Linked DNA regions of Homo sapiens: all the other regions are linked to region 3. Evidence: fine-mapped expression QTL. A gene starts in region 3. Each other region holds a variant in brackets. All regions are shown on one strand. Distances are from middle to middle. Region 1 overlaps LOC105375567 (a long non-coding RNA gene). Region 2 has its middle 42 kb from the start of AOC1. Region 3 holds the start of TMEM176B (transmembrane protein 176B). Region 4 overlaps LOC105375566 (a long non-coding RNA gene). Region 5 holds the start of LOC124901773 (a long non-coding RNA gene).

The links.
Region 1: its variant is fine-mapped to the expression of TMEM176B in whole blood (TOPMed, PIP above 0.99).
Region 2: its variant is fine-mapped to the expression of TMEM176B in whole blood (INTERVAL, PIP 0.98).
Region 4: its variant is fine-mapped to the expression of TMEM176B in whole blood (INTERVAL, PIP above 0.99).
Region 5: its variant is fine-mapped to the expression of TMEM176B in transverse colon (CEDAR, PIP 0.95).

What each region holds. Positions count from the first base shown.
Region 1 is chr7:150,820,844-150,825,942 of GRCh38, reverse strand. It overlaps LOC105375567 (a long non-coding RNA gene), which reads left to right. Exons shown (of 5, transcript XR_928171.3): 4 at 349-644; 5 at 2,229-5,099. Among named protein-coding and RNA genes, the nearest start is that of TMEM176A, 23 kb to the right of the region's middle. The variant A/G (reference allele first, on the strand shown) is at 3,109.
Region 2 is chr7:150,892,452-150,897,555 of GRCh38, reverse strand. No RefSeq gene overlaps it. Among named protein-coding and RNA genes, the nearest start is that of AOC1, 42 kb to the right of the region's middle. The variant G/T (reference allele first, on the strand shown) is at 2,942.
Region 3 is chr7:150,798,013-150,803,116 of GRCh38, reverse strand. It overlaps TMEM176B (transmembrane protein 176B), which reads left to right and starts at 2,753. Exons shown (of 7, transcript NM_001101312.2): 1 at 2,753-2,819. It overlaps TMEM176A (transmembrane protein 176A), which reads right to left and starts at 2,348. Exons shown (of 7, transcript NM_018487.3): 1 at 2,289-2,348; 2 at 1,393-1,581; 3 at 792-902. The coding sequence starts at 1,566. RefSeq lists enhancers at 1,657-2,356, 2,357-3,056, 3,057-3,756.
Region 4 is chr7:150,763,792-150,768,895 of GRCh38, reverse strand. LOC105375566 (a long non-coding RNA gene) reads left to right here. Exons shown (of 4, transcript XR_928163.2): 3 at 2,920-4,044. Among named protein-coding and RNA genes, the nearest start is that of GIMAP5, 29 kb to the right of the region's middle. The variant C/T (reference allele first, on the strand shown) is at 2,390.
Region 5 is chr7:150,414,904-150,420,007 of GRCh38, reverse strand. It overlaps LOC124901773 (a long non-coding RNA gene), which reads right to left and starts at 4,671. Exons shown (of 2, transcript XR_007060587.1): 1 at 4,363-4,671; 2 at 1-2,145. The variant G/A (reference allele first, on the strand shown) is at 2,509.

The DNA.
Region 1 (5,099 bases), 23 kb before region 3:
AGAAAAGTCAGTTAGGGTTCTGCTAGGAAATGGCATTCTCAGAAGGAGGAATATCGAGTTTAAAAAAGGGACTATTTACAAAGATGAGGCAGGGGCAAGGACATCACCAGAGGAGGTGAAGCACCTTGAAGCTAAGCGTAGTTGGAGGCCATTTTCACCCCTAGGTAGGTGAGAAGAGGCAAGGAGAGGGCATGGCTAATAGATCGGGGGAGACTTGCAGGACACAGTCACCTGACCAAATCGGTGGCTTTTGGCAGAACAGTGCTAAGCCAGGCTGTGATCTGGCACAGAGGAAGCCAGGGGAACAGATACTTCGATCTCATTCCTTTCTTTTGTTTTTGTCTTCAGGGCTGGCTACATACTCTGTTGGGAAGAAGGCTCAAAAATGAATCCTCTCAAGCAGACCCGCTTTGGTTTCCACCCCTCTATTCTGAGAACCCAAGCTCAACCCATGTGTTCTGCCTTCAGGTAGAAAATGTCAGAATCATAGGGAAGACTAAGCTGAAAAAAGAATTTGGAGTTCCAAAGGAATTCTGTGCCACCTGCCGTCCGGCAATTCCCTTTGCCAGGTAATGGCATGACAGTAAAGACGCACTCTGTTCTGAATAAGCAGAGAACCGGCTTGGCCTAGGACTTACGTTGAGGTGGGTAATGTTCGAAAAGACCCATTTGCTAGGGCATCTCAGGGAAGGCACAGAAGCCTTTGCAGGCGAGGCTGCAGAGAGAAGAAAACGCACGGGAGACAGTCCTGATTCCAAGGGGTTACAATTGGTTGGGGAGGCAAGGCAGCCACAAAGAAAGCACAGCATGTTTGGGCCAGGTGGGTGCTTCCTTAGGACAGCACTGCCTGTTTGGGAAACAGTTGTAGAAACAGATGGGACAATCCTTGTCCATCGAGATGGGGTCAGAGTGACTGCACGAAAATATGGCTACCCCGAGTTACCATGGCTACCAACACTTGCCCTCCTTCCATGCCTACCAGGCAGGGTGGAGGAGCTTGTTCTTTCTGCAGCCTGACCCAGGAGAGGAGGTAAAGCAGAGGGCTCCCAGAGGCCGCCCTTGTAGGTCCTAGCGCAGCAGGGTGACGCTGGGCCAGGAGGGCCCCGGGAGTGGGGTGGGGGAGGGCCACTGGGTGGAGGTGCCCTTCAGGGCTGCATCTCGTGGCGCCGGCTCCAGTTTCACTTCGGCTCCTGACCCTCAATTCCCGTCTGCGGCCCGGGGACCTCGGCCTTCTCCCCAGCCACCTTGCTGGCTGGCCCTGTCTTCCCAAGGTCAAGTTAAAGAACCAAGGTGTGTAAGGTCATGTCTTCCCAGTCAGGGGGCCGCCATATCTTGGTATCCAATGGACAACCTGCCTGCCGCTCACTCTCTAAAAGCCAATGATGAGGGAGCTATGTGCTAAGCCCCGCCTCCCCACCCCATGAATGTGCACAGCACCACCTCGTGTCCCAGTAGCGCAGCTTTGGGGAGTTTGGAAACACTCCTGGTTTGGGATTCACTCAGCAAATATTTAATGTGTGTGTGCTGTGGCCAGGTAAAATGCCAGGTACTATCTTCCTCTACATGGCAGGGACAGACATGTGTTCCTCAAGCTCACTGGGGATAGCACCACCTTTCTAAAGTTCCTCTCATCTGTTGCCCGGCCTCCAAACCCGGTGGTCCTTTATTAATTCAGCTGTGGCATGGGCGTTCATACTCTCAGCTTCCTTTACTGCGTTTCCTACTGTTTCTGGCTTCAAGTTGTTGAAGTCAAAATAAAAAAGTAGAGACTGAGCTCTAAATTTAACCGTTTATTTGGGAAGAAAGGATTGCCACTTGGGACACACATGCACACCGTAAGAACAAAGAGAAGGCTGGAGGTTTTACCGAATGTTACCCATTGCTCTTTGAGAAAGTTCATTGGCACTAATAAGGTTCTAGGGAGCTGGCAAGTTTCAACTGGTGGGCAATGGCATTGGGCAAAATTAGTCCTAGAGTTGCAGCAAGTTATCTCAGCAGGGTAGATAAAACTGGTCTCAGGTTACAACAGTTGGTTTCAGCAGTTAGACATGCGGAGAATTACATTCTTGGAGCAATGCTATCTTTCCTGAGTGCTTTTCCCCCTGGCTTTTTGACTTTGTTTTAGTTGGGTATGACAAAAATGACCCAATTCATTTGATCAACTTTCGCAAACATTTCTGCAACTAGCGGCATCCCTGATGTTGGTTTTATTTTGTTCTTCTTGAAAGTGTTACCAGATGGTGCTGTGCAGCTCCAGGCTCTTAGTGTCCTGACCGAAGAATTGGACGAGATACACACAGATAGCAAAGCAGCAAAAGTGTATGACGCATAGTATTACACTCCCAGAGAGGGGAGAGTGGACTGACCTCTGCGAAATGAGATCAACGTCAATTTGGTGTACTTTGAATTCTTTTATATATTTTTTCTCTTCTGTGGCCAAGACTGCCTGATGTCTAGCCAGTGTCTGCCTTTTGATGGACAGGTGGGCTGCTTAGTTATTTAATACTATGGCCCGTGTGCGCTTGTGACTTCTTGCGAGTCACCTCCATCCCATAATTTTAAGTACGTGCATAATATGCAGTCCATATGCATGAACCTTAAGTAGCTAATTACCATACGGGAACATTTTAAGGATATGTTTTCTGTCTAACGTGCATGCTCATCTCTGAGGAGCTGCCCCTGACAGGTTTGGTCCAGATCTAGGCGGCCATGTGGGCTCCTTACTCACTTTTTTAAAATCTCACTTTTGTTTTGGCTGCTCAGCCTCTGCTTCATATCTCACTTCTTGCTCACTCGCCCCTTCACCTTGCTTCTGCTCTCATGCTCTCACTCATTCTTCCTGTATCCAGTCTCTGGTTCCCTCTCTACCATCTCCTGCCTCAAAAGTGCTGCTCAGCATATAATTTCTCTTTGTAAGTTGTGGTTCTTGATTTTGGGAAATGAGTTTCCATCTTGCTGAACTTCTTAACTAGAGAATACTGTTGGGATGTGTCTACATCTATGTGACACTACTGGGATCCCTTGAATCCTATTTAGAGTCTAAAAGAGGGACATTGTTACTTAAAGGCGGTGGCCATTTAGCTGTCCCTCTTAGATTTGGTTCATATA[A/G]TTTCTGATTTTCATGTCAGATTATAATCTGTAAACTCCTACTCAGGTCACTGCACCACTTTGATGGAATTTCCATTCCCTTTGTCCTCAAGATTTGTCTAAAGATATTTGGCTTTGACAGAATTTTGGGTTCTTCAGTTTTCTTTTTAATTATAAAATATACATACAAATGAACATTAAGCATATGTAGTTGTGTGAGTAATTATAAAACAAACTTAATGTATCACCAAATCAAAGAATAGCTCATTGCCCCAGAAGCAACCCCAGTCCCCTAATAACAACCCCTCCCTTTCTCCCTCTCTCCAGAAATGAGCCATATAATACCTCTTGTGCAAATTACTTTTTTGCTTTTCTCTAGATTTTTTTCCTTTTTTGTAGGCATTCCTGAAGGATATAAGTTGGTTTCGTCTGTTTTGAACTTTCTATAAACAGGGTCTTACCAAAGATAATTTTTTTGTCTTATTTATTTTTCTTAATTTTATGTAGTTGTAGGTTGTTCATTAGTGTGTAATTTTCTACTCTAGGAATTTGCAACAATGGGTGTATTCATTCTAATGATGATGGATATTAGTCTTGTTTCTAGTTTGGGGATATTATGAACAATGTATTTATAATCCTTTCTGCACACATGACCTTGGTAATTCGTGTATCTGGGTGTATACCTTGAAATGCAATGGTGGAGTCATAAGTCATATATTTCAACTTTGCTAGTTCATGCCTGTTTTTCAAAGTGGTTGTACCAGTTTACATTTCTGCCAGCAGTGTACAAGAGTTCCCATTGCTCCACATCCTAACCAACACTTGGTATTGCCAGACTTTAATTTTTGTGGAATATTGTGGATTTAGTTCATGTTATCTTATTGAGGTTTTAATTTGACTACCTGGTTTATTGATGAGGTTGAACACATTTCCACTATTTATTGGCCATTTGGGCTTCCTCTTATGTACAGTGTCAGATCTTTGGCAATTTTTTCTGTTGGGTTGTCCGCCTTAATGATTTTTAAGAATTCTTCATGTGAAATTGCTGACACTTGACCATTTTTGACTTACAAAAAATGGCAGTTTCATATGATTCAATTTAACACCTTCTGGAATTGGTCCTTTGTTATTTATGTGTTGACTAATATTTTATCAGATTATGTGGCTTATCTTTTCATTTCCTTCCTTCGTTTTTTGAGAATCAGAAAGTTTTAACATTAGTGGATTTGGACTTATCAGTCCTTTTCTTTATGGCTGGTGCTTTTTATGTCTTGTTTGAGAAATCCTTGTCTTTGAGGCTAAAGGTGACCAGATTGTGCTGGGGGACTGGGGCTGCATTCTCAGGGCATTCTACTTTGGGCCCTGGGTCACATTGCCTCTGCTGGGGAGGAGGCAGGTTTCTCTGTGCCCCTAGCCTTGACTGGGTGGGGGAGGGAGGAGAGGCCACTCCTGGGCTCTTTGTAGGGTAGCACTCATGTTTTCAAGAAGATCCTTTCCTGTAGATTGTTTCCACACTGTTCTTTCAAGTGCAGAGGGTCTTCCTAATGAATCGGCAGCCCTGCATCTCACTGGGCCAGGGTTGGGGCAGGAGTAGGCCAGCATCACGGTGGATGTTCAGCTAGGGTGGGCTGTGACGGGGGTTGGCTCCAGCTCAGAACTGGAAATCCTGTTTGCTGAATTGTGTGTCCTAGCCGATGAGGTGGGACAAGGAGAAACTGGCTGAAGACAGTGAAACAGTAGGAAAAACCCTGCCTGCCCTGTAACTCTGGGGCCTGGGGGATGTAATGGTGTGATTCTGACTAGTTGGCTGGAGCAGAGCAGGTAGCCTGGGGCGCGCCAGACGAAGACTGGAAAATGTCATGGCTTTTTGGCCCTCACTCCTCAACGTCACTGTGGGTTGGGGGAGGCAGGGGACTGTCCAACCTGTTCACAGTTCCCTTTCCAGTGCTGACAGTGCCTGCCACATGAGAGATATTAATACACATTTGTTCAATTAATGAATTAATATTTTT
Region 2 (5,104 bases), 94 kb before region 3:
TCCTCCGCAAAGAGGGTTTGGGAATGGCGGGTGTCTCTCTCACTCGGAGCCAGCCCCTGTCTCTCTTCTGCACTGTTCCTGAGCCTGGGGTGGGTGTCTGGAGCGAATGGACTGGATTCCTCCCCAGCCCCAGGGTCTCTGTCTCTGGTGAGGGGCAGGTGGCTGTGTGTTGAACAAGCCTCTCCCTCCTCTGATCCACAACCAAACACATACAGGGATGTCCCGGGTAACTCTGGGAGTGTCCCTGTCTCTGGCCCTGCATTCTGGGGTCTGTGAACTGCAAATTGCTAGATGGAGGGATCTGCCTACCCCAAAGGGGAATTTCCAGGGAGAGGGATCTGTCCACCCCAAGGGGTGTGGCCAGGGATCCTCCTCCAGGAGATGAACCCCACAGACATGACTTTGGGTCCAAGCACCATCAATGCCATTTCCTGGGGCTGCATGGCTGGGAACCAGTTTGCCGACCAGTCGGAGCTAGATAGGGAGGGGGCAGGGCCGAAGTGGAGGTCTCCCCCTTTCCTTTCACTGCCTTTCTACATGCGGTGCTGGTCCTGGATCTGTTGTCCTGAGACTCTACACTTGTCCTCTCCCTCCTCTGCCATGTCTTGTGGGGACAGACCCCTGCAAGTGGTATCTCCCACACTTCCAGGTTCCACCCATGGGAGGCCTGAGCATGAGACAGAGGGGGCTGGACCTTCTCTCCCTTTCTCTCCAGCTGCGACAGACAGGCCCCCAGGGCTCCCAGCTTCCACTGGTGACCCGGCTGCAGGGTCTGGGAACTCCACGCCCTCCCTCTGCCCCTGCCTCTCTGGGCATTGCTGTCTCTGGAGTACCCACCCTGTTTATCTCTTAGTTCACCCATCCTCCCAGCTTCCAGTTCCCTGAAGTCCAGTGTCTCCGTGCTAAGTCTCCCAGCAGTCCCTGATTCCCAACCCGTGTGTCTTGCTGGATCTTCCTTCCCCACCTTAATCAGGCTGGCGCAGATCCCACCATAGTTTTTTGATTGTGTTTGTGTGTGAAACAGGTCTGTCAAGTTCAACCAACATCTGACATCCAGTTCAGTTTTGCCTCTCCTCCCAGCTCTGCTGGACCCCAGGTCCAAGGCTCCTACCCTGGGGAGGGGCAGGTCTGGCCGTCCCCTCCTCTCTTCCTCTCCCACACCTGCTGATGCTCCTGGGGCCAGGATGGAGGGGAGGGGGCTTGGAGGAAAAGTGGCCCCACTGGCGTGGCCATTTTTGCTTACATGGACCCTTGGGCTCTGGGTGGCTGATATGCAACACTGGCTCTTCTGCTGGATGCAGGTGTGTGTTCTTCCGAGCATCATGGACCTGGACCTGCACAGTGCCCTGATGACCTGTCCCCTGCTGTCCACCCCACAGCCTCTAACTGCATAGTTCTCCTCGTCTGCCTGGCTGCCCTCTTAGAAGGGGGTGTTACTGGATTCCTGTGGCCACCACCACAAGGTGCATAAACTGGGTGACTCAAAACAACAGAAATGTATTCTTTCATGGTTCTGGAGGCCAGAAGGTCAAAATCAAGGTGTTGGTAGGGCCACGCTCCTTCTGCAACCTCTAGGGGAGCATGCTTCCTTATCCATCTGGCTTCTGGTAGCCCCAGGTGTTTCATGGTTTGTGAAAGCATCACTGCAATCTCTGCCTCTGTCTGCATATGGGCTTCTTCTTTGAGTGTGTATGTGTCTCTCTGTGTCTTCTCTTCTTCTTATAAGGACACTGGCCATTGGATTAGGGTCCACGCTACTCTAGCGTGACCTCGTCTTAACTGATCACATCTGCAAAGACCTGTTTCCAAATAAGGTCACAGTGATAGGTACCAAGGGTTAGAACTTCAATATATCTTTTTGGAGGACACAGTTCAACCCACAACAGGTGCAGACACACCTTGGAAATATTGTGGGTTCACTTTCAGACCCCGCAATAAAGCAAATATTGCAATAAAGTGAGTTATAAAAATCCACTGGTTTTCCAGTGCATATAAAAGTTATGTTTATATTATACTGTGGCCTATTAAGTGTTCAATAGCATTATGTCAAAAATACAATGTACATACTTTAAATTAAAAAAATCTTTATTGCAAAAAAATGCTAACAATCATCTGAGCGTTCAGTGAGTCATCATCTTTTTCCTGGTGGAGGGTTCTGCCTTGGTGTTGGTGGCTGCTGACTGATCAGGGTGGTGGTTCCTGAAGGCTGGGGTGGCTGTGGCAATTTCTTAAAACAAGAAAACAATGAATTTTGCCACATCAATGGACTGTCCTTTCATAATATATTGCCTTGTAGCATGCAATGCTGTTTGGTAGCATTTTACCCAAGGTAGAACTTCTTTCAAAATTGGAGTCAATTCTCTCAAACCCTGCTGCTGCTTTATCAACCAAGTTTATGTCATATTCTAATTTTTTTGTTGTCGTTTCAACAATGTTTACAGCGTCTTTACCAGGAGTATATTCCATCTAAGGAAACAGGCAGGATGTGGTGGCTCATGTCTGTAATCCCAGCCTGGAATCATCCCAGGCCTAGGTGGAAGGATCACTTGAGGCCAGGACTTTGAGACCAGCCTGGGCGACATAGTGAGACCCTGCCTATATATAAAAAAAAAAAAGAAAGAAAAAGAACCAGGCATGGTAGCATTCACTTGTTCTAGCTATTTTGGAGGCTGAGGTGGGAGGATTACTTGAGGAGCTTGAGGCTGCAGTGATTCATGATTACATCACTGCACTCCAGCCTGGGCAACAGAGCAAGACTCTGTCTCAAAAAAGAAAATAAAAAAGAAAGAAGAAACTGTTTTCTTTGCTCATTCATAAGAAGCAACACCTCATCCATTCAAGGTTTTTTTTTGTTTGTTTTGTTTTGAGATGGAGTCTCGCTTTGTTGCCCAGGCTGGAGGGCAGTGGCACAATTTCAGTTCACTGCAACCTCTGCCTCCTG[G/T]GTTCAAGTGATCTCCTGTCTCAGCCTCCTGAGTAGCTGGGACTACCGGCACATGTCACCATGCCCTGCTAATTTTTGTATTTTTGTAGAGAAGGGGTTTCACCATGTTGGCTAGGCTGGTCTTGAACTACTGACCTCTGATGATCCGCTCACCTCGGCCTCCCAAAGTTCTGGGATTACAGGCTTGAGCCACTGCGCCTGGCTGCCAGTCATGTTTAGTCATGAGATTGCAGCAACTCAGTCACCTCTTCAGGCTCCCCTTTTAATTCTACTTCTCTTGCTATTCCCACCACATCTGCAGTGAGTTCCTCCATTGAAGTCTTGAACCCTTCAAAATCATTCAGGAGGGTTGGAATCAATTTCTTCCAAACTTCTGTTAATGTTGCTATTTTGACCTCTTCCCATTAATTACAAATGTTCTTAATGGCATCTAGAATGGTGAATCCTTTCAGGAAGGTTTTCAATTTACTTAGCCCAGATCCATCAGAGGAATCACTATCTACGACAGCTAGAGCCTTACAAAATGTATTTCCTAAATAATAAGACTTGAAAGTTGAAATTGCTCCTTGATCCATGGGCTGCAGAATGGATGTTGTATTAGTGGGCATGAAAACAACATTAACTCCTTGCATGTCTCCATCAGAGCTCTTGGGTGATTAGGTGCATTGTCAATGGGCAGTGATATTTTGAAAAGAACAGTTTTTTTCTGAGCAGTAGGTCTCAACAGTGGCCTTAAAATATTCAGTAAACCATTCTGTAAACAGATATACTGTCATCCAGGCTTTGTTGTTTCATTTATAGAGCACAGGTAGAGTAGATATAGCGTTACTCTTAAAGGCTCCAGAATTTTCAGAATGGTAAATGAGCATTGACTTCAACTTAAAATCACCAGCTGCATCAGCTCCTAACAAGAGAGTCAGCCTGTCCTTTGAGGCTTTGAAGCCGGGCATTGACTATGAATGTCTCTAGTTATGAAAGTCCTCGATGGCATCTTCTTCCAACAGAAGGCTGTCTTATTTACTTTGAGAATTTGTTGTTTATGTAGCCACCTTCATCATTGATCTTGGCTAGGTCTTCTGGATAACTTGCTGCAGCTTCTCTTTGCACTTTGATGTTATGAAGATACCTTCTTTCCTTAAACCTCATGAGCCAATCTCTGCTGGGTTCAGACTTTTCTTCTGTAGCTTCCTCAACTCTCAGCCTTCATAGAATTGAAGAGAGTTCGAGCCTTGCTCTGGATTAGACATTGGCTCAAGGGAATGTCGTGGCTGGTTTGATCTTGTATCCAAACCACTAAAATTTCCTCCATATCAGCAATAAGGCTGTTTGCTTTCTTATCATTCATGTGTTTACTGGAGTAGCACTTTTAATTTCCTTCAAGAACTTTTCCTTTGCATTCAAAACTTGGCTAACTGGTGCAAGAGACTCAGTTTTTGGCCCATCTTGGCTTTTGACATGCCTTTCCCACTAAGCTAAACCATTTCTAGAGCTTGACTTAAAGTGAGAGATATGCAACTCTTCCTTTCACTTGAACATTTAGAGGCCATTGTAGTGTTATTAATTGGTCTAACTGCAATGTTATTGTGCCTCGGGAATTGGGAGGCCCAAGGAGAGGGAGATAGATGTGAAATGGTCAGTGAAGCATTCAGAACACACACAGCATTAACCGACTGAGTTCACCGTCTTACACGGGCATGGCTCACGGTGCTTCAAAACAATAACAGTAGTAACATCAGATCACAGATCACTAATCACAGATCACCCTAACAGATATAATAATAGTGAAAAAGTTTGAAATATTGCACAAATTACCAAAATATGACCCAGAGACACGAAGTGAGCACTTGCTTTTGGAAAAATGGTGCTGATAGACTTGCTCCATGCAGGGTTGCTGCAAACCTTCAATTTGTAAGAAATACAATATATGCAAAGCGCAATAAAGCAAGGTGCAATAACATGAGGCATATCTGTATCTTCAAGAGGTCCACAGGCCACTTTCTCTGGAGTTTCCCGTCATCCTTGTCACTATAAGAGGTGGGTGTAGGCTATTCCCACTGCCTGGCCATCTCAGGCTGCTTGGCTAACCGGCCACCTTCAAGCTTCTGGCAATAAGTAGGCACCAGTCTCTAAATCCATGTATGTGCCAAACTTGTGGGGTCCATG
Region 3 (5,104 bases):
TTATGAAAGTTCTAGGGATGGTGGGATCCTGTGGATAAAAGTCATGGGGTGCTGGAGAAGATCTCAATGAAGGGTGAGTCTATACAGAGTGGGCACTGTTAGGTCTAGAAGCCTGTCCTAACAGTGCCCAATAATCCACTCAGCTGGGCTTGAAGAACAGGAAATCTAGTATGTCCCAGTGGACAGGTGGACCTGAATCCTGTTTGGCTAATTCTGTAATTAAGCTGGGTATTTTGCCACAGGCTGGGTGAAGGTAATTACTCTCGGCTTCTGTCAGTAAATATGAGTGTTTTAGTGCTATTCTGAGAGTGTAGGTACCATGACCAGCCTACCCAGCTCCTGTGCAAACTGCACACACCCATCTGTTGACAACAATTCCTGGGTTTCCATTGTGTACAGGGCCTGTGGAGGACAATGAGAATAACCAGGGGGTGATGCTTCCTGGGGGACCACATACTATCTGGAACGCTCTGCCTTCCCCATCTCAATGCAAGTATCTGGAGATGAGCAGGTCCTTAGATCCTTAGTTGACATTAACTGTTGAAGGCAGGGAGAGGCAGCCAGCCTGGTGGGAACAGCACTGGGAAGGGTATGGGAGAGCAGACAGTGTGAATAGGACATGCCACCACCGCCCTCAGCTGTTTGCTCATCTGAACAGGCAGGGAATGGTCCTAGATAATCAGATCTCTCCGACTGCCAGCATTCTGTGGCGCCATGTTGGAGGAAGGCAATCAGGAGAGCAATGCCCCACCCCTCTCACAGGCAGTCAAGCACTGTCCTGCTCTACTCACCACAGCCCCTGTCCAGATGGCAGCTCCCGAGGTGACGAGGAGGGTGTAGTCGCGGATGTAGAAAAATCCTCCTAGGACTGCACTCAAGATCCCCAGCACGATCTGCATCACCTGAAAGACAAAGGACCCAAGATCCCGGCTCCTAGGTGGACCTGCCACTGCAGGGATTAACCGCTAAAACCCCAAAAAGAGAGGGAGAGGTAGAGAGAGAGAGAAAGAAAGAAGAGAAGAGAAGAGAAGAGAAGAGAAAAGGAGAAGAAAGAGGAGGAGAAGGAGAAAGAAGAAGAGGCAGGAGGAGGAGAAAAGAGAAGGGAAAGGAAGGAGAGGAGAGCCGGCCCATCCTGAGTTTGGCCCAGAGGAAAGGATGGACTCAGGGCTCCACTGATTGGGACTCTGCATGGTCAGTGGCTCCTCCACACCCCTTCAGCCCAGAGCCTCCCCTCCCCAGGCTCTTACTGAGAAGGCCAGAGAATCACATCGCTAAGTAAGAAGACATAACTGGCTCGGTGTCCTGTTCAGAGGGAGGCTGGCAGAGAGTGCTGCTGCGGCTGGAGGTGGGGAGTTCCTCCCGCCGCCCGACGAGGCAGGCCGTCACACTCACCCACGAGGCCACCAGCAGCCGGCTGCTGCCCCTGGCCTGGGTGGCCCGGGGCCGCAGCGCAGAGCAGCAGGTGAGCAGGAGCTTGGCCAGGGCAGACTCCTGGTGGATGTGCACATCGATGTGGGTGTGCTGTGGGGCCTCCGGGGCCATCTCATCACTGTCGGCTGTTCCCATTGTCAGGGACACAGTCTATGAGGAAGGGAGCACCAGAGAGGAACGGCTGTCAGAAGATTTTCGCAGATTTCATTGGAGTTGGGGAGGTCAGGGGCCAGTGGTGGCTCAAAGTCACCCAATGAATGGCTGTCCTGGTCACAGGGCCGCACCCCTGGCCCCTCACGAGGGGAATGTGTGTAGCAGAGGGGGTGCTGACCATGCTGGAACTGCGGCGACTACAGAGCCTGCGGGAACCTCCCCTTTCGCCCAAGATCTGCTCTGTCCCCCTCATCCTCCTCCCAGGGCCCTGGCGTCTGGGTCAAGCAGCGCCCCACACCTCGACCCCTCACCCCCTCCTCCCGGGCTCTTCCTGCGGCCTCCCCTCCACAGTCCGCAGGCTCTGGGACAGGACCGAGTCCTTGGCTGCCTGTGGAGCTCCTGTGCCAGCAGCTGCGCCCCGGCTGCGCTCCGGATACCCCCATCCCCGCCACCGCCGACCTCCCGCTCCACCGACTGCTGCTCACGCCCGACGGGTTCACGCCGCCCCTGCCCCGTGAAGGACCGCGCTGCGGTGCGGAGGTAGGTCAAAAGCCGGGGCCGCACCTGGCTTCCTCTGCAGTCCCCTTCCTGGAGTGTCATCCCTGGGTGGGGGTCCCTCCTACGCTCCTCCAACTGTGCGGAGGCAGCTCGGGGTGCGTGCGGAAGGAGGCCCGGGGGCCGCCGGGAGTGGGGTGCCGCCTCACCTGCGCTCCTCGGGACCTGCGAGCGGGCGGCGGGAGGGCTGGGGCGCTGGCTGGAGAAGTGGGTTGAGAGTTGGAGGGGGAGGCGGGGAGGGGAGGCGGGGGTGGGGCTGAACTTCAGCCCCTCGGGTTCATGACAGGCTGCAGGGCCTGGGGTCCGTCTGGGGTTCTCCTGCTGCGCGAGGGTCACTGGGCTCTGGGGAGCTGGGAGGGTCCGCGGGCGGACGGCCCTGGGAAAGCCCGTGGGGTCGTTCTCGCCTCCAGCCCCGCCCGGCCAGGGCCGGCGTGCAAGTGTGCGCGAGTGGGAGCGCAGGGGGCGCGCGGGGGCTCGGTCTTCTCCCGCCCGGTCCGCTCCTCCGGGCGGAACCCCCTTTGCCGGGCCCCCGGGCCGCAGCTGGTTTCGGGAAACCGCGCAGCCTGGGCGGGGCCGCAGCCCCCACCCGTGCATCTGCCGTCTCCGCCCTCCCGTCGCTCCCCTGCTCGGGGTCAGCTAGTGTCCGCTCTGCTCGGCCGCGGGCTCCCGGAGGACTGCAGGTGAGGCAGGGCCTCCGCGGCCCGGGAGACCCTCTTGCCGCAGGACCCTCTGTCACGAGGAGTCCCCAGGGCCATGCCCCCACCCCGTCCTGTCCACAGGACGTCTTTCTTCCTCCAACCTGGTTTCCAGGAGGACTCACGTAGGAGGGAGGGACAGCTGGGTGCAGGTGTTTCTCCCCAGAAAAACGGCTGGAGAGCGGGAGGAGAGGCCTGGGGCTGGCGCGTCCCGTCCACCTTCTGCCGCCTGCACGCCTGGACCCTGGCTGGAGCCCTACGGTGGGGTGGCTCCTGGGACGGGGCCAGGGAGCGGCGGGGCTGCCGGACGCTTTCCCCAGCCCCGGGGCACGGGAAGAGCTGGACAGAGGAAAGTGTTCGGGGCAGCCGGGAAGAGCCCACCACCTACCAGGCGTCGGGCGGCCCGCAGGGGAATCTCCGTGGTGCCGGCCTGGTTCAGATCCGACTCTTCAGGCGGGGGCGAGGCAGATCTAGGGGTTGGCGTGGGGCGGGGGAAGCGGTGGTCCTGGGGGCCCGGAGGTAGCTGGAACCCGAGGTGCCCTCAGGGCGAGGCCTGGGCCGTCAAGGGAAGGTCTGGCTGGAATCTGGGGCTGGGCTGGAAGCAGTCTGAAGCTCCTTTGTACGTGTGCGGAATTGTCTAACTCCTGTCCTTTCTAACCCCAAGGAGGCCAGGTGGGTGAAAGAGTGAAACTGCTTTGAAAAGTAGGTAGAGTACGAATGGGAGGTGTTATTAGAATTGTTAATAATATTTGATTTAAACTGTGATACTTAGCCAGGATGTCCATTAGAATTGCCTATGCAGGATTTATTTTAGAGCCAGGCAAGCTGATTCTAAAGTGCATGTGAAGAAGTAGTCTAGCAAAAATGGCCATGACAATTCTGAAAGAAAAACCACACGAGGGGATCATGAAACAGCCCAATTAGCATTAAGCTCCATGTTAAAATTGTGGTAATGATGCCTAGCCCATGAGACATGCCAATGGGCAGAATATAAGGACTAGAATAGGCCTACATTCCTAGGGGAACTTCATTTCTGCTCAGGAGAGAATTTTAAATCACTGAGAAAAAGAGGATGTATTTTCCGCAAATGGAACGTATCTTTCAGAAGTTAAACATCTGAATGACAGCAACAGAACTTGGATCCGTGTCTCCCAACGGCGAAGGTTGGTCACCCAGCTCCCAAATTCCAGATGGTCGGCATTTAAAAGTGAAAACTGAAAGCATAAAGGCACTTAGAAGAAAATGTGGAAGATTATTTTATAATCTCGAAACGGGGAAGTCCTTTAAAAGTGTAAGAGCTAGACACCATAAATAGAATGAAATAGAACATGGATTGTATGAATATACAAGCAAGGTCAAAAAATAAACTTCAAATTGTAAAGAAACATTTGAAACTCATATCACAAACGGTAATTTTGTGAATAGATAAAGAACTTCCATAGAAAAAAGCAAAACAAAACAAAACGAAACAAGGACATAGGATGTGAACGGAGAGCTCACAAAAGAAGAAATAAAAATGGCCCTGAACATATGAAAAGACAACCAACCTCACTCATAATAAGAGAACTATGGGCCAGGCGTGGTGGCTCACACCTGTAATTGCAGCACTTTGGGAGGCTGAGGTGGGAGGATTGCTTGAGTCCAGGAGTTTGAGACCACCCTGGGCAACAAAGCAACACCCCATCTCTCTCTCTAAAAAAAGAGAACTGGCCGGGCGCGGTGGCTCACGCCTGTAATCTCAGCACTTTGGGAGGCCGAGGCGGGCGGATCATGAGGTCAGGAGATCGAGACCATCCTGGCTAACACGGTGAAACCCCGTCTCTACTAAAAATACAAAAAATTAGCTGGGCTTGATGGCGGGCGCCTGTAGTTACTCGGGAGGCTGAGGCAGGAGAATGGCGTGAACCCGGGAGGTGGAGCTGGCAGTGAGCCGAGATCGCGCCACCCTAGCCTGGGCGACAGAGCGAGACTCCATCTCAAAAAATGAATAAATAAATAAATACATAATAAAAAAATGAAATAAAAGAAAACCATGGATTAAAAATATATGGAAATCATTACAGAAAGCAGGTCAGTGGTTGCTCATGGCCAGTGGTTGGGGGTATTTTCTGGGGAGGGGCTTTAGGGAATGTATTGCTGTGTAGGAATGTCCTTTATCTTGATTGTAGCTGTAATTGCACAAATGTGTAAATTTGTCAAAACTCGTTGAGATATACATTTAAAATGGGACATTTTTATTACATAAAATTGATTAAAATCAATGCATTTTT
Region 4 (5,104 bases), 34 kb after region 3:
TGTCTTACTCTTTCACTGAAAGGTTGAAAAGTATCCCATTTAACCCATTATATCTAAAATATTTGGAAAAATTGAAATATTATGAACTTTGATAAACCTCTGTCAATCTATTTAAAAAAACTTTTTAAGTGGAAAATTCTAAATACATAGAAGTAGAAAAAATAGCGTACTGAACTCAACGTATCTATCATTAGGCATCAACAGTTATACATGGGCAATCTTGTTTCATCTAAACCCCTATCCTTTCCACTCCTAGTTTTTATTATTGTTTTTATTTTTTGAAATAGGGTCTCACTCTGTTACCCAGGTTACGATGCAGTGGCATGATCACAGCTCACTGCGGCCTTGACCCCCGGGCTCAATGGATCCTCCTACTTCAGCCTCCTGAGTAGCTGGGACTACTGGTGCATGCTACTATCTTCCGCTAATGTTTTAAAAAATATTTTGTAGAGATAGGTCTGTGTTGCCCAGGCTGGTATTAACTCCCAGGCTCAAGCCATCCTCCTGCCTTGGCCTCCCAAAATGTGGAGATTAAAGGTGTGAGCCACCATACTCGGCCCCTTTTGACGTTTCTGACAAACTTCCCAAGATTAATTTCTAAATTAAGCCTTTTTTATTGATCTTGAACTAACTTTGGGACTTTTGAGATGGGCTCCTGGAAAATGTGAAAGAATTTCTCTCTCACCTTGTAAAAGAGGGACATTAAACTAATTGGCTTATTTGATATGTTAAATTATGTGGGAAGCACTGTCAAGTAAAAGTGACGTTTAGCTTTCTTTATATTTATATGGGCACATGTTACTAATAAGAGTGTTTCAGAAATAAAATTCTTTAAAATTTGTCAATACCCTTAGCTATTCATCATATGTCTGATATAATGTTATCAATCAGAATTCTACATCTTATTTTACAATGTTGTATGTCACAGAAATAACCAAATTTCCTCATCAATTAGATTGTAAGAAACTCTCATTAGATATTTAAATGTGACTACTTAAAAATCTTTTATAATTTACATGTTATTTTACTGTGATATTTTCCTAAAAGCTTTTGCAAGCCACTATGGTCAAAATTTGTCTTCAAAGAGATCATGGAAAAGACTCCAACAAGTACAGGTTTTTGATAACTTTAAGATCCCACCATTGGCCTGGGTAAGAATTTCCAGAACTCTAATGAAGAAACTGACTGGTTTGTAAAACTGTTAACCCGATGTTGGGCAAAACAAAAATTAATTGGATGGGACTAAATGAACTGATGAAAAAAAATGATGCTTTAAAAAATTACCTTTTTTCAAAACATTGCTCGTTCTTTAATATTTTGTTTTCCAGATCTGAGGAAATGTTTTCTCTTTTATCCTACGCTATCTGTAGTTGACCACAATCTGGTAGATTATGCATTTGTAAACAGAAATAAAGCATTTGATTTTCTCCCTACCTAATCCCTCCAGAATTTGAAAATGATGAGTGAGTATTCTTACATTCATGACCATAGTTGTTTGTATAGGTCCAATAAGAATCTATCTGTTTGTAACAGGACACAATGGAAAACATTGGTTACATTACCAAAGCTTTGGAATGTAATTTTTAGAATGTCATAGAATCAGATATGACTACACAGTTTTAAGAAACTAAGGATGACTTTGTGGGGCGAATAAGGCCCCTTAAAAAACCCCCAGCCTGGTACCTTGCTCACAGAGTTCCTAGCCTTATAGTTGAGTAAAGAAGGTAACTTTCATGCAGGCCCAGGAGCCTTAAAAATATTTTGGAGACCTCGAGAACAGAGGAACTCACCCAAATCTAGAGGTGTTACAGGCAAAATCTAATGACAAGCTCTTGGCTTGGCTTCCTAGACTTGAGAGGCTTTTAGATTCCTTATTAGCAGTTCCAGCAAAGCAGACTTAAAAAGAGCCTATACGATCAATCACTATTCTTGCTGCATTATATAAATAATCAAGACAAGTTTAATGTGACTAGACTTATTTTGTAAAAAAATTAGTCTTACTGTGATTATGTTTGGTAAAAGTGGGAGTGACTGTGGAGAGAAAAATTATATTAACAAAAACTATAGTGTACCCGTTATTGGATTCTAGTACTGTTCATTGTCTTTGAAGTTTTGTTATCTATATGTAGAATGGATTAGATATTAAACTCTAATTTCCTCCCATATCCGGCAACAAATCTTCAGGCTAATGCTTCATGTTTTTCTCCTACTCTCTTGACTTGACATCACTGAAAACTGAAGCTGCCCTTTTCCTGAAATTTTGCAAGCTGAAACTGGATGACTTGATATAAACTTCAGAGAACTCACTACCACAACTAATATATAAGCAACCTTTGTGCCTGTTGCTGTGTAGGCCACTCAGAAAGTCCACTGGAACACCCAATGACCT[C/T]ACCAGAGACATTCAAACTGCAAATCAGGAAATTGATCAGAATTACCACTGCTTATCTTCACTCTCTATCTAAAGATGCTTTGAGCCCAACCTATAGTACCCTTTACCAACTGATTGCCCTCTGGACTCAAAAGCTGGGCTTATAACTTGCCCTAAACATTAACCTTTATTTTTCTTTTGTTTCCATAGAAATGCCTCTTATTGGGCTGGGCGCGGTGGCTCACGCCTGTAATCCCAGCACTTTGGGAGGCCGAGGCGGGCGGATCACGAGGTCAGGAGATCGAGACCATCCTCGCTAACACAGTGAAACCCCGTCTCTACTAAAAAACACAAAAAAATTAGCCTGGCGTGGTGGCGGGCGCCTGTAGTCCCAGCTACGCGGGAGGCTGAGGCAGGAGAATGGCGTGAACCCGGGAGGCGGAGCTTGCAGTGAGCCGAGATCGCGCCACTGCACTCCAGCCTGGGCGACAGAGCGAGACTCCATCTCAAAAAAAAAAAAAAAAAAAAAAAAAAAAAAAAAAAAAAAAAAGAAATGCCTCTTATTGTTTACATTATGAAGTCTCAACTTGGATGGAAGCCCAACTGCAACACGGCCTCCTAAAATGAGACGCAACTGTTCAACTGAACTGTTCTCAGGACTAAAAGGCTGTGTCAATAAGATACGGGGAATATTTGTTCTTCTGTGTGTTCCGATCCTTGTTTTTCTTTCCCTTCGTTGATCTCTTGTTTCACAACTTCCAACCCAAATCTGCTCACAGCTACTAACTTGGCTTTTAACATATGAAACTTTCTAAAAGTAAAGTTTCAAATGGGGAATGAAGAGGCTCAGAATACACTACCCCAAAACATGTCACTCAGAACACATCATCCCCAAATATGCCACTTTGGCATCAGAATTATTTTAAACTAAAGGCACATAAAAACAGGAGATGCAAGAAGATCACTCTGACCTTCACTGTTCTTTAAAAGCCAGAGATGAAATTCCCATGTGAAAGGTGTTCTCCCTAAACCAAGAAGAAAGTAACATTCTCATCACAAAGGATAGGAAGTTGAGGCTGATAGGAATCTATACAAGCATCCCTTATGTTCCTAATTACTTATTTACCCAGTTATTTACCCTAGCATAAGCCCCTTTGCCTTGTTACATTTTCACAATTCAGGGCATAAATGTTTGACTCTAGCTGCTGCTTTGTGTCTTCATTTCCTTATGAATGCTCTCCTGCCATTAAAAAACTTGCATTAAATAATTTATATACTTTTCTCCTGTTGATTTGTCTTATGTCTATTTAATTCTCCAGGCCCAGGCAACAAACAAACAAACAAGAAAACAAAACAAAAACAAAAAACCCCCAACAACAACAACAACAAAACCATAAAAGAGGAGGGGCAAATTTTTGCCTCCTCTTCTGCATTTTTCACATGCTTTATCCTGTTTTCACTTCTTTACTTTCTGGCACTATAAGGTGTTCCAGGCTCATCTTATATTTATTTTCCCTATCCTAGCCCTGGAATCAGCCACTTCTACACTTCTTGAAGGAGTCCTGGTTCCTTTCATCAGGGAACGGCATTTCGAAATCAAGATCTGAGTGCTGGCTGTGCTCATTGCTACTGGTGTCACTGCTCATAGTCTCCTCTCTCTCAGTGGGCAGAGCTAGGTAATTCATGTATGTATAACTGACCCATATATGCACACATATTATATTTTTGTATCTACTAAAAATAAATCAACCATGAGTTCATACTGATATTTCTAACTCCAGTCCAGCACCAGGATTTATTCTAGCATTATCTCTGCTTATTTGTAACTTCTTTCTGACAATGAGAAAAGTGGATCCCATAGCTTACACTATATTTAATTATTTTTGAGCCCAAGTATACCATAGGTTTAGGGTTGTTTGTGAAAAACGAATTTACCAATGAGAGTTTGTTGCTTCTGTACTGTTCTTCTTGTCTTTGGCCTGACACTCTCCAGTCAAAACATTGCTTTACAAAGGCACTTAGGTCAGCTCGTTTCTTCCCTCCTAACTTCCGTATGGTTATGTTTTTTTATTTGTAATACGGTTAGATTCATTTTAGCAGTCCGCTTTTCATCTTGGATTTCCCCAAGATCTCAGTTGATTTTTTAAAAATTTGTATACAGCAAAGTTTACCCTTTGTGGTGTATAGGTTTATGGGATTGAGAAAGGCATAGAGTCACGTGTACAACAAGACAGTTTAACTCAGAACAATTGGACTGCCCAAAAGTTTCCTAATGAGGCCCTTTAGTGGGGCATCATTTCATAGGACTCCCCCAACTCCAGGCAACCACGGATTTGTTTTCTATTTTTATAATTTTGCTTTTTCCAGAATGCCATATAAATAGAATCATTCAGTATGTAACATTTTGGATTTTCTCTCATTTAGCAAAAAGAATTTCAGATTCATTCATGTGTTGTGGGTTGATACTTTTTATTGCTGAATGGTATCCCATTGTCTGGATATACACAGACTTACTTACCCTTTCATCTGTGAAAGACAGCTGAACTATTTCTAGCTTTGGTAATGAATAAAGCTGCTATAAACATTCAGGGCCAGGCACAGTGGCTCACGCTTATAATCCCAGTACTTTGGGAGGCTGAGGCAAGAGGATCAACTGATGTCAGGGGTTCAAGACCAGCCTGGCAAACATGGCAAAATCCTTTCTCCACTAAACATACAAAAATTCACCTGGCGTGG
Region 5 (5,104 bases), 380 kb after region 3:
ACTGCAACCTCCGCCTCCCAGGTTCAAGCGATTCTCCTGCCTCAGCCTCCCAAGTAGCTAGGACTACAAGCACGCACCACCATGCCCAGCTAATTTTTGTATTTTTAGTAGAGACAGGGTTTCGCCACGATAGCCAGGCTGGTCTCCAACTCCTGACCTCAAGGGATCCGCCCTCTTCAGCCTCCCAATGTGCTGGGATTACAGGCGTGAGCCACCATGCCCAGCCATGCTATACTTTTAAATACATTTCTGGGTTTAATCTGCTAATATTTTATTTTGGATTCGTACAATTCTGTTCCTAAGTGAGACTGGCTGAAAATTTCTCTACATGGTGCTGTTCTGCTCTGGTTTCGTCTTCAACTTTTACTAATCTACCTCATTAAATGAGTTTGGATGTGTTTTTCCCCCTACTCGCTGGAACTGTTTGTATGTGAGAGCTTATCTTTTCATTAAAGGTGGACAAACCTCCTCAGTAAAACTATCTGGGCCTCCTATCTTAATTAACTTAAGGGAATGAAGGTTATATTTTTGACCACTGATTCAGGTACTCTAATGCTTATAGGTATATTCAGATTGGTTTAAGTTTCTTTTAGTAATTTATATTTTTCTAGAAAATAATCCATTTCATATAAATGTAAAATAGTCATAAATTGTTCACAGTATTTTATCATGATTTTTCAAAATCTCTATTGTATCCATGGTAATCATCTTCTTTTCATTCCTAGCATTGTTTATGACTGACTTCTCTCTTTTTTTTACTTTTTGCAGAGGTTTGTCTGTTTTATTTGTCTTTTCAAAGAACGGGTTTTGGTTTTACTGAGTCTCTTTAATATTATTTTTGTTTTGTAGTCCATTAATTTTTATCCTTATTTTTTTCCTTCTTTGGCTATATATTCCATTATTTTTCTAACTTCTTAAGTTGAATTTTTTTTTAAAGAGACAGCATCTCACTCTGTCATCCAGGCCAGAGTGAGGTGGTGCAAACATAGCCTCGAACTCCTGGGCTCAAGGGATCTTCCAAGTAGCTAGGACTACAGGTGCATGCCACCATGCCCAGCTAATTTTAAAAAAAATTTTTTTAGAGATGGGATCTCGCTACGTTGCTCAGGCTGGTCTCAAACTCCTGGATTCAAGCAATCCTCCTGCCTTGGCCTCCCGAAGTGCTGGGATTACAGGTGTGAACCATCCCACCATGCCTGGCCTTAAATTGAACTCTTGACTTTTTGATTTTCAAAACGTCTTCTTTTCTGATGAATACATTTAAAGCTAAACATTTCCTCTAGTTGATTTCAGTTGTATCCACAAGTTTTGAAGTGTAGCATTTCACAGTAGTCATTAATTCATAAATATTTCATTATTTCCATCACAATTTTTTCTTTGATTTGAATTATTAATAAATGTGTTTTTGAAATCCCTGAATGTGCCAGCCTGGGCAACAAAGTGAGAACCTGTCTCTACAGGAAAAAAAAAAAAGTTTTAATTAGCCGGGCATAGTGGCACATGCCTGTAGTCTTAGCTACTTGGGAGGCTGAGGTAGGAGGATCCCTTGAGCCCAGGAGTTTGGGGCTGCAGTGAGCCATGATGACACCACTATACCACTCCAGCCTGGGCGGCAGAGTGAGACCCTATCTCAAAAAAAAAAAAAAAAAAAGAAAAGAAAAAGAAAGAAAAAAACCCTGAATGTATACAAGTTTTCATTTGCTGTCTTTTGTGAATGACTTCTATTGCATTGCGTTCACAGAATGTGACCTACCAGTGATGTGTAGTATCTGTTGCGACTTGCCTTATTGCCTAAAATAGCACCGCCATATTAACTGGCCCTGTTTCTTGATTTTCTCTTATTGTAAAATGTCCTGAATATGCTCCGACAATGGCCAAGAAAACAGTCCCATTTTATAATACTCTCCAGGCATGAGGGAGAACTCACTATAAATACCTACCCACCAGGGGGAGGCAGTATGGAACCCCAGGAGCTCCAGAAGTGATATTTTGGTTGTCCAAGGGTCCAGCTCTATGTCCAGAACAAGAATCCCATCAAGACAACCTTCATGCAACCAGGCCAGCCATCTCTTCATCGGGAGCTCCCCATGTCAGACACTGGGAGCCTCGGGCCTGCAAGATCACATCCACGCCCTCAAGTTACACCTGTGAAAGTGAACCAGAAAATGTTGCACAAATATGATTTGTCATTGATTGGAGATCAAGCCAAAAACACATGAGAAACTAATCTCAAGAAAATGAGAGAAAAGGGAACACAGGGCATGCGTGATAATTTACCAAATGACAAGTTTGCACGGCAAAGTATGGGCTCTGAGCAGGGAGAAACCACAGAGTAGTAGCCAGGCAAGCCGGAGAGCACCCCAGGCCTGTCCATAGACACCCCCTCTGAGACTAACGCTCACCATGCCCTTGTGAATAAGTCCCTGGGATTGATGCTTGGGACCTCTGTCACTCGGGCCATAGCTATGGGACCAGGGGATGTGCCCCAGCCTAGGGAAGCCACCTCGA[G/A]GCTCACAGATGACACAAGCAGAGCCAGGAGAAAGGATTCTGCCTAAGAGATTCCCTAAACAAGACTGTGAGCAACCACAGTACAACCTCCCTCGGGGTCCGCATGCGGCATAAGGAGAGGCACCTGCAGAAAGCAGAGTGCTGAGGAAGCTAGAGGAAGAAGAAGGCAATTCCTATGGAGAGGTTCACGGCTGCTAGGTGCGGTGGCCCACGCCTGTAATCCCAGCACTGTGGGAGGCTGAGGCGGTGGATCACTTGAGGTCAGGAGTTCGAGACCAGCCTGGCCAACATGGTGAAACCCCACCTCTACTAAGAATACAAAAATTAGCCAGGCGTGGTGGCAGGCACCTGTAATCCCAGCTACTCAGGAGGCTGAGGCAGGAGAATCACTTGAACCCAGGAGGCAGAGGTTGCAGTGAGCCGAGATCACACCACTGCACTCCAGCCTGGGTGACAGAGTGAGACTCTGTCTTAAAAAAGAAAAAAAATGGTTCATGGCTGAGACCCCCGTAACAAAAGCCAGGTCAACAAGGGAACAGCATACAAATGTATTTAATATAAATTTCATGTGACACAGGAACTTCAGAAATAAAGACCCAGCCGGGCGTGGTGGCTCACGCCTGTAATCCCAGCACTTTGGGAGGCCGAGGTGGGCAGATCATCTGAGGTCAGGAGTTCAAGACCAGCCTGGCCAACATGGTGAAACCCCGTCTCTATTAAAAACACAAAAAAGTAGCCAGGCGTGGTGGCGCACGCCTGTAATCCCAGCTACTCAGGAGGCTGAGGCAGGAGAATCGCTTGAACCCAGGAGGCGGAGGTTGCAGTGAGTTGAGATCGAGCCATTGCACTCCAACCTGGGCAACAACAGTGAAACTCCGTCTCAAAAAAAAAAAAAAGAAAAAAAGAAATAAAGACCCAAAGAAACAGGAGAAACTGTCTTCATGCACAGTCGTGCAGATGTGTGATTGGAGGACAAGAGGGTGTGACTTATGCTAATAAACTGGGGGACTTAGCAAAGCCTGTTTGTTCAGATTCTTCCTGGGGTCTCTGTAGGGCACTCCTTTTCTCCAGGGATAGGGAGGATGCTTCTGGAATGAGGGTCTTATGACCTGCTTTAGAGGAAGATCCGAGAATTCTTCTATGGCCTGCTTCGGGGGAGACAGGCGAGGGGAAGGGCAACGTGGCCTTCCTGCTTCTGCCATTTTCTTGATGCCAAGATGCTATATTTTGGGGTGGCATGTCCTGAACCCTGTTAAAGCCAAGAGCAGTGGCAGAAAGGAGAAGAACAGGCATTGGCCATGCACAGCAGACCCCATGAGTGAGCACCAGGCCAGAGGTGGGAAAAGCAGCAGCCAGTGCATCGCCTTGGCAGCCTGAAATACGGTTCTCACGATGTCATAAAGACGGAATCCTCCGCAGTCCCTGGGACTATATGTAGTCCATTTTCCCTCTGGAAGCCCCATACGCTTCCTCCTGCTCCGTAATTTCTGAGAGCACTCATGTGCAGCGGAAGCTGTCACCTCTGTCCATCAGCCAGTCCCTCCCCCACCTCTCAGAACGCCTGTGCACCATCATGTCACCCTCTCCAGAAGACTCTCTTGCCCCACACATGGACACAGTTTTCACTACTCCTATAAACTCAGATTCTCTTGAACCCACATGCTTTAAACCCCATCTCAGGGGACCCTGTCATCCCCCAGCAGGTTTCCATGTGCCAGGGGAAGGACCAGCTCAGCCCCTCCCCACTGAGAGATTTTCAGGTCCTTCCCACACCCCAGAGGCCCCTGTCCCTGATGCTCTGCCTTACAACAGCCTTTTGACAGTGATTGTTATGAAACGGGAGAGCAAACACACCAGCCTGAAGTGTCTGTGTTTGAGATGCTTTCCAAGTCCAAGGCCAGTGCAAGAGTAGCAGTGTGTATTTGTTTAGTGTTGGTTTAACTGCAAGGGCCTGATGACCTTCCAGAAACAAAGAAGTTCTGCTCCAAGGTGACTTTCTGTGTCTGCTGCTAGAAACTGCTAGCAACTGCAGTTCTCCTGCTTAAAGAAAAAAAATCCAGTTTCAGTTCACCAAGCGTCTGTACAGAGCAGAGATGGTGGTAGCCTAGCGCAGAGCAAAACCCGAGTCACAGGAATGGTGGCAAGCCTAGAGGAGCAGGAGCAGCGTCCCAGGGACCTCTCCAGCCTGCCCCGTGAGGCCTGGCCACTCAGCCGAGCTGGGGGGTCACCACCCAAAAGAGGCCTGCACAAGCAGTCGGGGAAGCACCCAAGAAGAACCTGAGGTCGGCCAGTCCACCCCATTCATTTCATGTATCAGAAACTGAGCCTCGAGATGGTAAGGACCTTGGCCAAAGACATGTGGTCAGACTAGACCCCAACCCTTGACCTGTGAATTTGACTCTTGTCCCTTGTTTCCAGTGGAGAGGGGCTTCAGCACAGCTGGTGAGGGTCACCAGCATTTAGGTCCTCTGGCCTGGCCTCTCACCAAGGAGATGGTCACCTCCAGTCCATTCATCCAGCAGCAGCTCACTGAAGGCCCAGAGGTAACCAGTGTCACACAGAAAGGCCAAAGAAAGGGGCAGGTCATGATCTACTG